2 separate regions of the Homo sapiens genome follow, and region 1 is linked to region 2. Evidence: fine-mapped expression QTL. Tissue or cell type: cerebellum. Region 2 holds a variant in brackets; the other region holds the start of a gene. All regions are shown on one strand. Distances are between the middles of the regions.

Region 1 (7,455 bases), 61 kb before region 2:
GAGAGGAACAGCACAGACTGCACAGCGCCTGGGACACGCCCCCTCAGAGCGCTGGCATCCAGAGACTCCCCGCAGCCCCGCTCGAATAGCACAAGACCAACAGCCTTTCACATGTGTAGTGACTTGGGTGTCTGGAGCTATTTGAAAATGCTGGTGACTTCCACGCAGAATAACACAGGCCGTCCTATTTGCTTTGTGGGGACAAATACACACACATATTCCTAGAGTAACAACTGCAACAAAACAACTACAGCAAAACGACTACAGGCACAGGAAGACATTTGTTTGTTCATTGGTTTGTTCGTTCACTCGCTCAGCAGCATGTTAAATGCTACTTTGTTTCAGGCACCGGTTCAGGCGCTGGGAGGACAGGGTGAGTAAGGCCAGGTCCCCGCTTTCACAAAGTCCACATTTAGGTGGGGAACGAAATAATACAATTTCAGGTGTGAAAAGGGATATAAACAAAACAGAATGACAGGATGAGGAGGATGGAGAGTAACCAGGAGCTGCTTTATTTATTTATTAATTTATTAATTTATTTATTTTTGAGATGGAATCTTGCTCTGTTGCCCAGGCTGGAGTGCAGTGGCGCGATCTCGGCTAACTGCAACCTCCACCTCCCGGGCTCAAGCGATGATTGTCCTGCCTCAGCCTCCCAAGTAGCTAGGATTAACAGGTGCCCGCCACCTTGCCCAGCTAAGTTTTGTATTTTTAGTAGGGTCGGGGTTTCAACATGTTGGCCAGGCTGGTCTCGAACTCCTGACCTTAGGTGCTCAGCCCACCTTGGCCTCCCAAAGTGCTGGGATGACAGGCATGAGCCACCGCACCCGGCCTGGAGCTGCTTTAGATGAGGAGGTCAGGAAGGTCCCTTTGAAAGAGATGCCCTTGATCAGGACCTTAAGTCATGAGACAGGAGTAAGCCATGCACACTGGGGACGGGCATGCTAGACAGAGGAACAGCAAGTGCACGGGCACAGAGGTGAGATTGTGGTGTGTTTGGGAACAGTAAGAAGGACATCACCACCACATGCATGTTTCGGATGTGTCCTGTTCTTCCCTAGCCTCGGCCTGGAGGGGAGTAAGTCACTTAGGGTCTTGGATCCACATTAAGGAAGTTGATCTCACTCAGTCTCCCATCCCCTTGCCTTTTGTTTCTTGTGTGTCTGTGACTTGTGTTTTCCTCGTCTAAATTTTAAGCTCTGGGAGGGCAAGGATGATGCTCTGAGCTTTTTTGGGGGCTGTGGCACAGCTGCTGGCAGAGTCCAGAGCAGGAAGGCAGAGCGGAAGTAAAGGAACCGAGAGGGCTGGGACCACAGAAGCTAGAGCTGTCGCCCTGCCATCCCCAAACCGCATAGGATTGAGGCTGTCTTGGGGCTGAGCTGTAGAGTGAAGCTCAGGCTTTGCCCTCCTTCCAAATAACGGCAGCTGAGGGATACTATTCAGCCCGAGGTGCGTGTGTGTGTGCGTGTGTGTGTGTGTGTGTGTGTGTGTGTGTTGGGGGTTTTTAGGGAAAGGGGAATGGGGCAAGGAGTGGCAGTGGGAATTTCTTTTCTTTTTCTTTTCTTTTTTTTTTTTTTTGAGACAGTCTCGCTCTGTGGCCCAGGCTGGAGTGCAGTGGTGCAATTCTCGTGCCTCAGCCTCCCGAGTAGCTGGGACTACAGGCATGTGCCACCACGCCCGGCTAATTTTTTGTATTTTTAGTAGAGATGGGGTTTCACCACATTGGCCAGGCTGGTCTTGAACTCCCGACCTCAGGTGATCCACCCACCTCAGCTTCCCAAAGTGCTGGAATTACAGATGTGAGCCACTGTGCCTGGCCTTGCAGTGGGAATTTCTGATGCGGAATGGTTGACATCATATCTGGAATTTTAATTAGAATGAAAAATGGCCCTTCCTAAGGGGCTATATGGGCCACCGTGGACATGGGGCTTGGGAGAGTTTTGAGACCTGGGAGAAATGTCACACGGTGGTTTGGAGGCAGGAGGCTGTCTGGCATAGGCTCAGAGTTGGGTGGGGGAAGGAAAAGGGACACAGAATGAATGGGAATGACAACTGGGCAGCCAGAGAGCTACTTGAAAGGTAGCAGGGAAAGTGGAGTTCTGAAGGGAGTTCTGAGGGGACCAGGCCCCAGGTACCCCAATTCCCACAGGGAATCGAAGTGTTCAGTTTTCTGGTTCTCCCTCTTCCTCCAGTTGCCATCAGAAACTCAGGCACCGCAACCCCAGTGGCTGGCGGGGTGATGTCGGGGGGAGACTGAGCTGCTTCAGGGGGTAGCAGCTGGTGAGTTGGGAGGAATCTGTGTGCTCAGCAAACAGCAGCCTCAGTGCCCGGTGGCTGCCTCCTCCCTCATCAATCAGCCCCAGCCAAATGTCCTTGCATTCCCACCACCCCAAGGGGACTGGGGCTGGGCCAGGGTCCCCAGGGGAGATGGGGATGGGTGGGGGGAGGTGAAGGGGGGTGCTTGGCTTCCTTTCCCTTGGCCTCTGTTCTCTTCTGTCCTGGAAGCTCTCAGTTCTTCATGTCATGGAATGACTATCCTGGCCCCTACCATCGTGGGGGCATCAGCTACAAATCACCTGTGGGGGGCTGCTGGGGGAGAAGGATGAGTCAGGCTGTAGAGTAATCTACTCTGGTTCTCACGGGACCAGCCCAGGGCACAGCCGGCAGGGAGGCTGCTGGCATAGAGGCCCTGTCTCCCCTGGCCTCTGTCTCTGATGAATGATCCGGACAGCAGGCCGAGACCCTGACCCCTGGAATGGACCTCTCTTTCCACCTTCTCCTAGCCCCCAGTCCTCATCCCCTGCTTCCAGCCAAGATCCAGAGGTCTGGCCCCCAGCTCACCCCAAATCTGCTGTTCCCCACTAGGGACTGGGGTCTCTAGACCTTAGCCTCTGGCTCCCTTTCCCCCTCCTCAGCCTTTGCTCCCCTCCGGGACCCAGGCGTCCTGCCCACTCCCTTCACCATAACAACCATTCTTTTGGAGTTGCTTAAGACTTTAATATCATTTCATTAAGTCAGCAAGTTCAGAGAAGGTTGGGGGCACAAAGAGACTGGGGGTGGGCAAAAGAGGGCCAAAGTAGGGGGGAGGCAAGGAAAGATCCCCCACCCCCCTCTCCGTGGAGATGGCTCTGAGAAATCAAATATTGACAATGAGGGAACAGAACTTATTAAATCTGGGACAGGGATGTGTGTGGGGAGCTGTGGGAATGGCCGGATGCCTGGGTTCGGAGGGTAATGAAGGTTCTGGGAGGAGGAAAAGGGCCGTGGCTGGGAGGTGCAGCAAGGCTGAGGCTCGAGGTCACAACTCTTCTGCCCTTTCCTTTGGGATGTACACGGTCTTGCAACCCTGGCTGTTTCTCTAGCCCCGAAGAGCCCCTGGGGAAAAGACCCCCATCATAGCTAGCTGTGGTTGCCCCGCCTTCGTCCCTTCCCCCTACCTCCACCTCTGTTGATGAGCTTCAGCAGCGTTTAATCGGATTGAGCAGTAATTAGCAAAGCGAGATGTTTGATTACCTATTTAGCATAATGTGGGGGGCTGGGATCCGTAGGCACAGCCACAGTTGGGGAGGGGGGTTTAAGAAAAGAAATGGGGTCTGTGCAAAGTTCCTTTCCCCGAGGGACCCATGAACCTTGCCCCTGAGGCTCCCCACCCCACGCCTCCAGCAAATTTTCACTCCTTTGGGACTTTTCCCTAGGGGTTCTGGCCAACCACATCACCTCTGTCTGCCACCCATGGCCTATCTGGCTAGAGGAACACCTCCACGTTCCATCTTAGCTGTGCTAGCTGTGCAGCTGGTTTTGGGGTGGGCGGTACTCCTCTCCTTCCATTCCTGCTGTCAGCAACAGGAGTCTGGCTGGGCAGGAGGAATTATTGGGGGTCGGGGGGAGGGAAAGGGTTGACACTTCTGGGAATAAAGATACGGTAGGTGGGAGGGTGAGGTCAGCGCTGGGATAGGGTGTGGTTAATCCACTTGCTCTTCAGGAGTACCAGGGACTGCCACTCCTGGTAGTGCCAGGCTGGCATAATGAGATCTGTTAGGTGTGAACGCCAAACAGAAAATGGGGGAACTGAGGTGCCAGCTTCTCTTCTCCTCATCCAGCAAAGAAAATGTCATAAATTTCGCTCCTCATGGAAATGTAATCAGTGGGCTCGCTGCTGGCTTTGTCTTAATTAGGCACTATTGATGGAAACAGGGAGGGCGCCTTCCCATCCCCCCACTCGGCTTCCTCCCTGTATTTCCCAGGTCTCCCCAAAGCTCCTCCCGGCACCAGGTACAGCGGTCTTCCAGGCGCCTTCTAGCAGCCCCGGCCCGCAGCGCCCCCTGGCACCCTCGGAGATGTACCCCGGCCCTCATAGCCCTCCCCTCTCGCCTCCTCTCTCACGACGCAGCCTTTGTTCCTATGGAGAGCGAAGCCCCTCCCAGGCCCGGTCACCTTCCCCAGGGAGTCCCCGCCTCTCATCCCCCCCAAAAACCAGCGATGCCTTCGAAAGCCAATCCTCAGATTCCCAAAACTCCAGTTCCCGTCTTCCCTCCCTTTCCCCGCCCCGCGCCGCCCCCCCGCAATCCTAGACCCCAATCCGAACTAAGAAGGGGGAAGGAGCAGGAGGGCAAGGGTGCTCCAGGCCCGGTTTTTCCCCCGGATCCAGCTGCACCCACGGCTGCCTGGAAATCCTGGAACGCCTTCTACATCGCGAATATCCCTCGCCGGCCTGGCGCCCGGCGCCATCTGCTGGACCCGTTCCGGCTGGGGCGCACAGACCTGGGCGCGGGGTCGGGCGATTGGGTTCTCCCTGCCTTTTCAATGTCCTGCGGGGCGGTGGCTCACTGTCTCTCGCCCCAGCCCTTCCAGCTGGGTCCTGACACCAGGCCCCCCGCACCCTTCGGCTCGCCAGATGTGGCTACTTTCCTTTAGTCCCGGAGCCTTCAAGCCCTGGGTCCCTGAGGGGTAGACCTGGGCGGGGTGGGGCCGCGAAGCAGGGATCCAGGGCGCCTGCGCGGAGGAGGCGGGCTCCGAGGGGCCGCACACCGGCCACTCGCCCCTCCCTGCCCGGGGTTGCCATGGGGACGCGTGCAGACGCCGGCCCGAGAGGGCTGCGAGGGGCAACTTCTTAGAGTGGCCCATCGGTCGGTCTAGGGAGGGGAGGGTCAGCGTGGCAAGGTGTGTGTCGGGGGCAGAGGGAAGGAGGGAAGGAGTGCTGGGGAGAAGGGGCAGTAGTGTCGGGGTAGGAAGGGACAGTTGTTGGGGAGAAGAGGCAGTTGTGGAGGGAGAGGGAGCAAGGAATATTTGTGTGGGGGAGGGGGAGGAGAAGGGGCAGTTGTGACAGCTGGGGGGGAAGAGCCATTCTGAGGGGAAATTTGCCTGCTGGTAACCAGTTTAAGGATACCAGCTGCTGGTATAAATACTGCTGGATAAATACTGCTGGATTTATACTGCAGGATAAATACTGCTGGCCCCTGCGGTATTTCCTAGTACTAGAGTGAGCCCCGACTTAGCAGAGCAGTTCCTCCTGGGGCCTGCGGTGTGGGATCGCGTGGTGAACCCCACGGTGCATGCGCCTCAGGCTCTAGTTTGAGGCAGGAAAGCGCAGCTTGATGCTTCTCTGGAGACTGATGGAGGAAGCCTCCTTGCTGTAGTTGGTTTTATTGATTTGCTGGCCTAACAGAACGTTTTTCCTTGGAGCAAAGTACAAATCCTTCAAGTTTGAAATTCATAACCTGAGATCAATGCCTGTGGCAGCCTGTGGGGATGAGGAAGGAGAGCCACAGGTGCCGTTAGGCTGCAGCCTAATGAAAAGAGAGTGCCCAGCGCCTCAGACTTTGCGCCTGGGATTCTGAGCACCTGTCCGAGATCCCCGCTTCCTGCCATCCTACCTTTCTGAGAGAGGCACCACTGTGACCTTCCTCGTGCCCCAATTGCTTTTTCCTCATGACACAATTTGAAATTTATGATTGGATGACTTTTGTCCTTCTTTCTTCCAATCTGTTCTCAGGGCATTTTGAGTCAAATAAATGATCCTGACTGATCTTAACCATTAGCACAGAGTTCCTCAGCCAACTCTGCTAAGAGACCTCAGTACACACAAAACAGTGTTCCTGCCCCTCAGGACTTCAAAGCGATAGACCCAGGTGGCAAATACTGTTTTTCTCTGTTTACAGATGTTGCAGATTTTAGTGGGATTGGGAGGAGCATATTTCCATTTAACTTGGGAGGAAAAGAGGTACATAGGAAAATCATCTTGGTTTGCTTGAATGATTGAACAGTGACAAAGGATGGGGGATGTGCACCCCTTCCTTGATCCTCTCTCACTCACTCATGGTCCTGGAGGGTAGAGTGGATGAGGGTTTGGGCAACCACACTTCAGCTTGATAGATCTTTTCCTGATTATCTTATGTTCTCATACCCCGGGGCAGAGATAGAGGTTCTAAATCCTCATTAGTGGGGTGTCTGGCCATCTTTTTTTTTTTTTTTTTTGAGATAGAGTCTCACTCTGTCAGCCAGGCTGGAGTATAGTAGCATGATCTTGGCTCACTGCAGCCTCTACCTCTCGGGTTCAAGAGATTCTCCTGCCTCAGCCTCCCGAGTAGCTGGAATTACAGGCACGCACCACCACTCCTGGCTAATTTTTTGTATTTTTAGTAGAGACGGGGTTTTGCCATGTTGGCCAGGCTGGTCTCGAACTCCTGACCTCAGGTGATCCACCCGGCTCGGCCTCCCAAAATGCTGGGATTACAAGCATGAGCCACCGCACCCAGCCTGGCCATCATCTTTAACTCCCATTTGTTCCTAGTGCCTTGAGGGACTGACTTTGATTTTTAGCCCAGTGCCCCGAAGACAGTAGGATATCCTAGGGAAAAACAGCAAGGCCTCCCAGGCCCCTGTGGAGTACAGAGCCCTTGTGGTTAATGGAGCAGGGTGTGGGTACCACCAGAAAAGATGATCATATTGAGTTTCAGTCAATTTATGAATTCAAAAGGGACTGCTTGTATCAGGGGGCTGGTTCAGGGGTGGTATCTGCTTGTAGACTCTCCACTCCTGTATACCTGTAGGTTTTGCCTGCACGATGTCCAGCAAAGCTGAGAAGAAGCAGCGATTGAGTGGCCGAGGAAGCTCCCAGGCAAGCTGGTCAGGGCGGGCCACTCGGGCTGCTGTGGCCACACAGGAGCAGGGGAATGCCCCGGCTGTCAGTGAGCCAGAGCTGCAGGCTGAGCTCCCCAAGGAGGAGCCTGGTGGGTACTTGCTGGGGCAGAGGATGCTTAGCAATGGAGGGTGGGGAAAGTCAGAGGGGCTTGGAGGCATTTTAGGGCTGGGGAGCAGGCGCTGTTGCTTCTGGGCAGGAAACGGGCTAAGTGACGCCCCCAGCCATGGAGGTTCAGCAGCCCTGCCACTGAGTCCTTTTTTTGTATGTCTTCCTCCTGGCCAGCCTCATCCTTGTTCTTTCTGTCTTAAAATTTC
Region 2 (4,000 bases):
GGCTCCATGAGGAGAGAAGACCTCTTTAAATGGCCGTTAGTCACTCTTTCCCATCTCACCTGCCATTCCTGACAATGACCATCTCTGCTCTGAACCGAAATTTCCTTCTGAAAGTCAGATCATCTGCCTCCTAGCCTCCATTTCTCTCAGGAACGCAAGCCAGCTGTTGGCCATTCCCGCTTTTCTCTGGGTACAAAGCCCTGAAGTGCTGCTCCATAAGTGCCTTCCCTGTGGAGGACCTTGGCCGTGCCCCCTCAGGCTGAGCTGCCCTATTCTCCCACCTCCCCCCAGTCCTGGCTTGGCGATGTGGAACAGACCATGAGGGTGACCCTGCGGGACCTTCTCCGGAACTGCCACCTGGCCCTCAGGAAGTTCCTCAACAAGAGGGACAAATGGGTGAAGGAGTGGGCTGGCCAGGTGAGCTGGGGTCAACAGAAGTGAGGGAACAAGGGGCTGGGCACGGTGGCTCACGCCTGTAATCCCAGCACTTTGGGAGGCCGAGGTGGGCAGATCACTTGAGGTCAGGAGTTCAAGACCAGCCTGGCCAACATGGTGAAACCCCGTCTCTACTAAAAATACAAAAAATTATCTGGTGTGGTGGTGTGCTCCTGTAGTCCCAGTTTCTCAGGAGGCCGAGGCAGAAGAATAGCTTGAACCCAGTAGGTGAAGGTTGTAGTGAGCCGAGATTGTGCCGCTGCACTCCAGCCTGGGTGACAAAGCAAGACTCTGTCTAAAAAAAGAGAAAAAAAGAAAGAAATGAAGAAATGAGGGAACGAGAAGATGGAGTTAAAAGGAGGTGGCCAGTGGAAAGACAGAATCTTGAGTCTCACACAGTGTGGTTTCTTACCCCCCTTTCTGAGCTGTGGCTCTGGTACACTCCAAGCTGGACCCTTAGCTCCTGACCTGAGGCCCATGTCCCATCCTTCAGAGCAGATTGGGTGCAGTTGGGAGAGGCACATGGTTCTTGAATTAGCTGGGACTTGGGAGCTGGGCTGTGCGTGTAGCCAAGGACAGGGCTTTGGGACGTGGCTTCTGCACATCCCCAGGTGGTGATCACTGCCAGTCAGATCCAGTGGACGGCTGATGTCACCAAGTGCCTGCTGACAGCGAAGGAGCGGGCAGACAAGAAAATCCTCAAGGTCATGAAGAAGAACCAGGTGAGAGGCTGGGCGCACTGGCTCATGCTTGTAATCCCAGCACTTTGGGAGGCAGAGGTGGTAGGAGCCCACTCGCTTGAGCCCAGGAGTTCGAGACCAGCCTGGGCAATATGGCGAAACCCCTTCTTTACCAAAAAATACAAAAATTAGCTGGTGGCACACCCAGGAGGTTGAGGCTGCAGTGAGCTAAGATCGTACCACTGCACTCCAGCCTGGGCGACAGAACAAGACTCTGTCTCAAAAAAAAAAAAAAAGAAAGAAAAGAAAAGAAAAGAAAAAAGTAGGTGGGTGCTCTGCAAGTATGGGCTAGGCCTGGAGCTAGAATTGCAGGGAGGGAGCAGTCAGAATTAGAGGTGAGC[T/A]GGTGGAAAAGGGCCAGAGCGAGGGTGCTTTATGATGGAAGTCCAGTGGGGGCAGTCCGTGGTAGAGCAGAATTACCAGGAGTTACAGCAGGTGGGGTCAGCACCGGGTTGGAAGCGGTGCTGGGTAGGGGCAAGGGTTGATCAGGCTTTGGCGGCATTGCTCTGTCTGCTCTCTTCCCTGCTGCTTCATGCCACAGGTGTCAATCCTGAATAAGTATTCAGAAGCCATCAGGGGGAACTTGACCAAGATCATGCGGCTTAAAATTGTGGCTCTGGTGACGATAGAAATTCATGCCCGGGATGTGTTGGAGAAGCTTTACAAGAGTGGCCTCATGGATGTCAATTCCTTTGACTGGCTCAGCCAACTTCGGTTCTACTGGGAGAAGGTGCCAGATGGGCCACCTCCCCACTCTCTTACCGTAAAATGGATCCTAATGCTTTTATTGCATCCATGTTCTGTAAATGCAAGGATATCCTAAGCCAACCCTTAGTCCTGTCCCACTACCCTAATCCGGTTCTTCCTTCCATCTCCTCCCCACAATCAGGAGTGGCAAGTAGTTGTCCCAGTCAGGGCTCACTATGAATGTCACTTGAACAGGACTCAGAAACACTCCAGGCAGCTGCTGCATTGGGTCGGGGTGGATGTGCAACATGAAACCCATTTTCCATCTTGCCCATAAACCGCTCCCCTTTTCAACTCTAAAAGGGAACCCCTGATCCCTTCACTGCAGCCTCCCTGACAACTCTGAGCCCCACTCTCAGTCATTGTCCCAGCTCTAACTCTCCTTCCAAGCCCACCTCTCTCTTTTTCTGCGCTGTTTTCCCCAGGATCTTGATGACTGTGTCATCCGCCAGACCAACACGCAATTTCAGTATAATTATGAGTACTTGGGTAACTCGGGCCGGCTCGTCATCACCCCCCTGACGGACAGGTCTGCCATGTGGGATGAATGAGGTGGCTGGGGTGGGGGGCAGCAGAAGCTGAGAGAGGCTTCCAGGAGTCTGACTCTAGTTCTGTCCTCAATTCTCAGGTGTTACATGACACTGACCACGGCATTGCACCTGCACCGAGGGGGCTCCCCCAAAGGCCCTGCAGGCACAGGCAAGACCGAGACCGTCAAGGACCTGGGCAAGGCCCTGGGCATATATGTCATTGTGGTCAACTGCTCTGAGGGCCTGGACTACAAGTCCATGGGCCGAATGTACTCAGGTCTGGCCCAGGTCAGTATCCTGCCACCCTGTGCCAGAAGCCCCTTAAATACCTTTTCGTCCCAGAAAATAAACTGAAACCCAAATCTGGTTCAGTGCTTTGTAGCTTCATGACATTGCATCACATGTAATTCTTATTTATTTATTTATTTATTTTTTGGAGTGCAGTGGCATGATCTCGGTTCACTGCAACCTTTGCCTGCTGGGTTCGGGCAATTCTCCTGCCTCAGCCTCCTGAGTAGCTGGGATTACAGGCGTGTGACACCAAGCCCGGAGAATTTTTGTATTTTTAGTGGAGACGGGGTTTCACCATCTTGGCCAGGCTGGTCTCGAACTCCTGACCTTAGGTGATCCACCTGTCTTGGCCTCCCAAAGTGCTGGGATTACAGGCGTGAGCCACTGCGCCCAGCCACGTATAATTCTTACAACTAGGAAAGTCCCTTCCCCTTCCTGAGCTTCATGTAGCTTATTTGCAAAATCAGAAGATTATAAAGGATTAAAGAAAATAATGTGTGTTAACTGGAGCAGAGTAGACAGTGCACACAAGTTCCCTACCCCAGTCTCTTTCCAACCCACACCTTTTCTAGCATCACCCCAGATTGGCCCCATCTGATGGAAAGTTCTGGCCAGAAGCTACAACAGTGTACTCTGGTGCCCTCCTCCCTGCCCCCTAGTCTGGAGGCCGCCTCGCCTATTGAAACATTTGAAGGAAGGGTGCGTTAATCACGCTTTCTAGCCTCTTGGGGCACCTCTCGCTCCCAGTGACTCTGCCTTGCACCCCGCAGACTGGAGCTTGGGGCTGCTTTGATGAGTTTAACCGCATCAACATCGAGGTGCTGTCAGTGGTGGCCCACCAGATCCTGTGCATCCTGTCTGCCCTGGCTGCCGGCCTCACCCATTTCCATTTTGATGGCTTTGAAATAAATCTGGTGTGGTCCTGTGGGATCTTCATTACCATGAATCCTGGTAGGTGGCAGGGAGTGGATGGGACTCCTGGGGTGGGAAGAACTGGGTGTTCAGGGGAAATAACTGCGCATCCTCCTCTTCCCCCTTCCATGCGAATGTATATAGCTAAGTGAAGTCTGGCTAAAGATAGCAAAGGGGAGAGAAGGATAAACACAACTTTCCGGGAGAAGGGGAAGCAATCTTACTGTTTTCCCCAAAGGGATTAATAACCACTTATGTGTGTATATGTAGCCCTCATCTTTTAAGATACTTAGCTTTCTTCTCCCTTTAGGCTAGCTCCAAGAGTTCTGGTCTCTCTGCCATCTCTTT

Evidence for each region. PIP is the estimated chance that this variant, and not a neighbour inherited with it, causes the effect.
Region 1: it holds the start of DNAH2, and the variant in region 2 is fine-mapped to the expression of DNAH2 in cerebellum (GTEx, PIP above 0.99).

The regions. Positions count from the first base shown.
Region 1 is chr17:7,712,672-7,720,126 of GRCh38, forward strand. It overlaps DNAH2 (dynein axonemal heavy chain 2), which reads left to right and starts at 5,073. Exons shown (of 86, transcript NM_020877.5): 1 at 5,073-6,128; 2 at 7,050-7,229. The coding sequence starts at 7,064.
Region 2 is chr17:7,775,733-7,779,732 of GRCh38, forward strand. DNAH2 (dynein axonemal heavy chain 2) reads left to right here. Exons shown (of 86, transcript NM_020877.5): 31 at 292-417; 32 at 1,047-1,157; 33 at 1,714-1,902; 34 at 2,345-2,448; 35 at 2,548-2,737; 36 at 3,511-3,691. Among named protein-coding and RNA genes, the nearest start is that of KDM6B, 56 kb to the right of the region's middle. The variant T/A (reference allele first, on the strand shown) is at 1,517.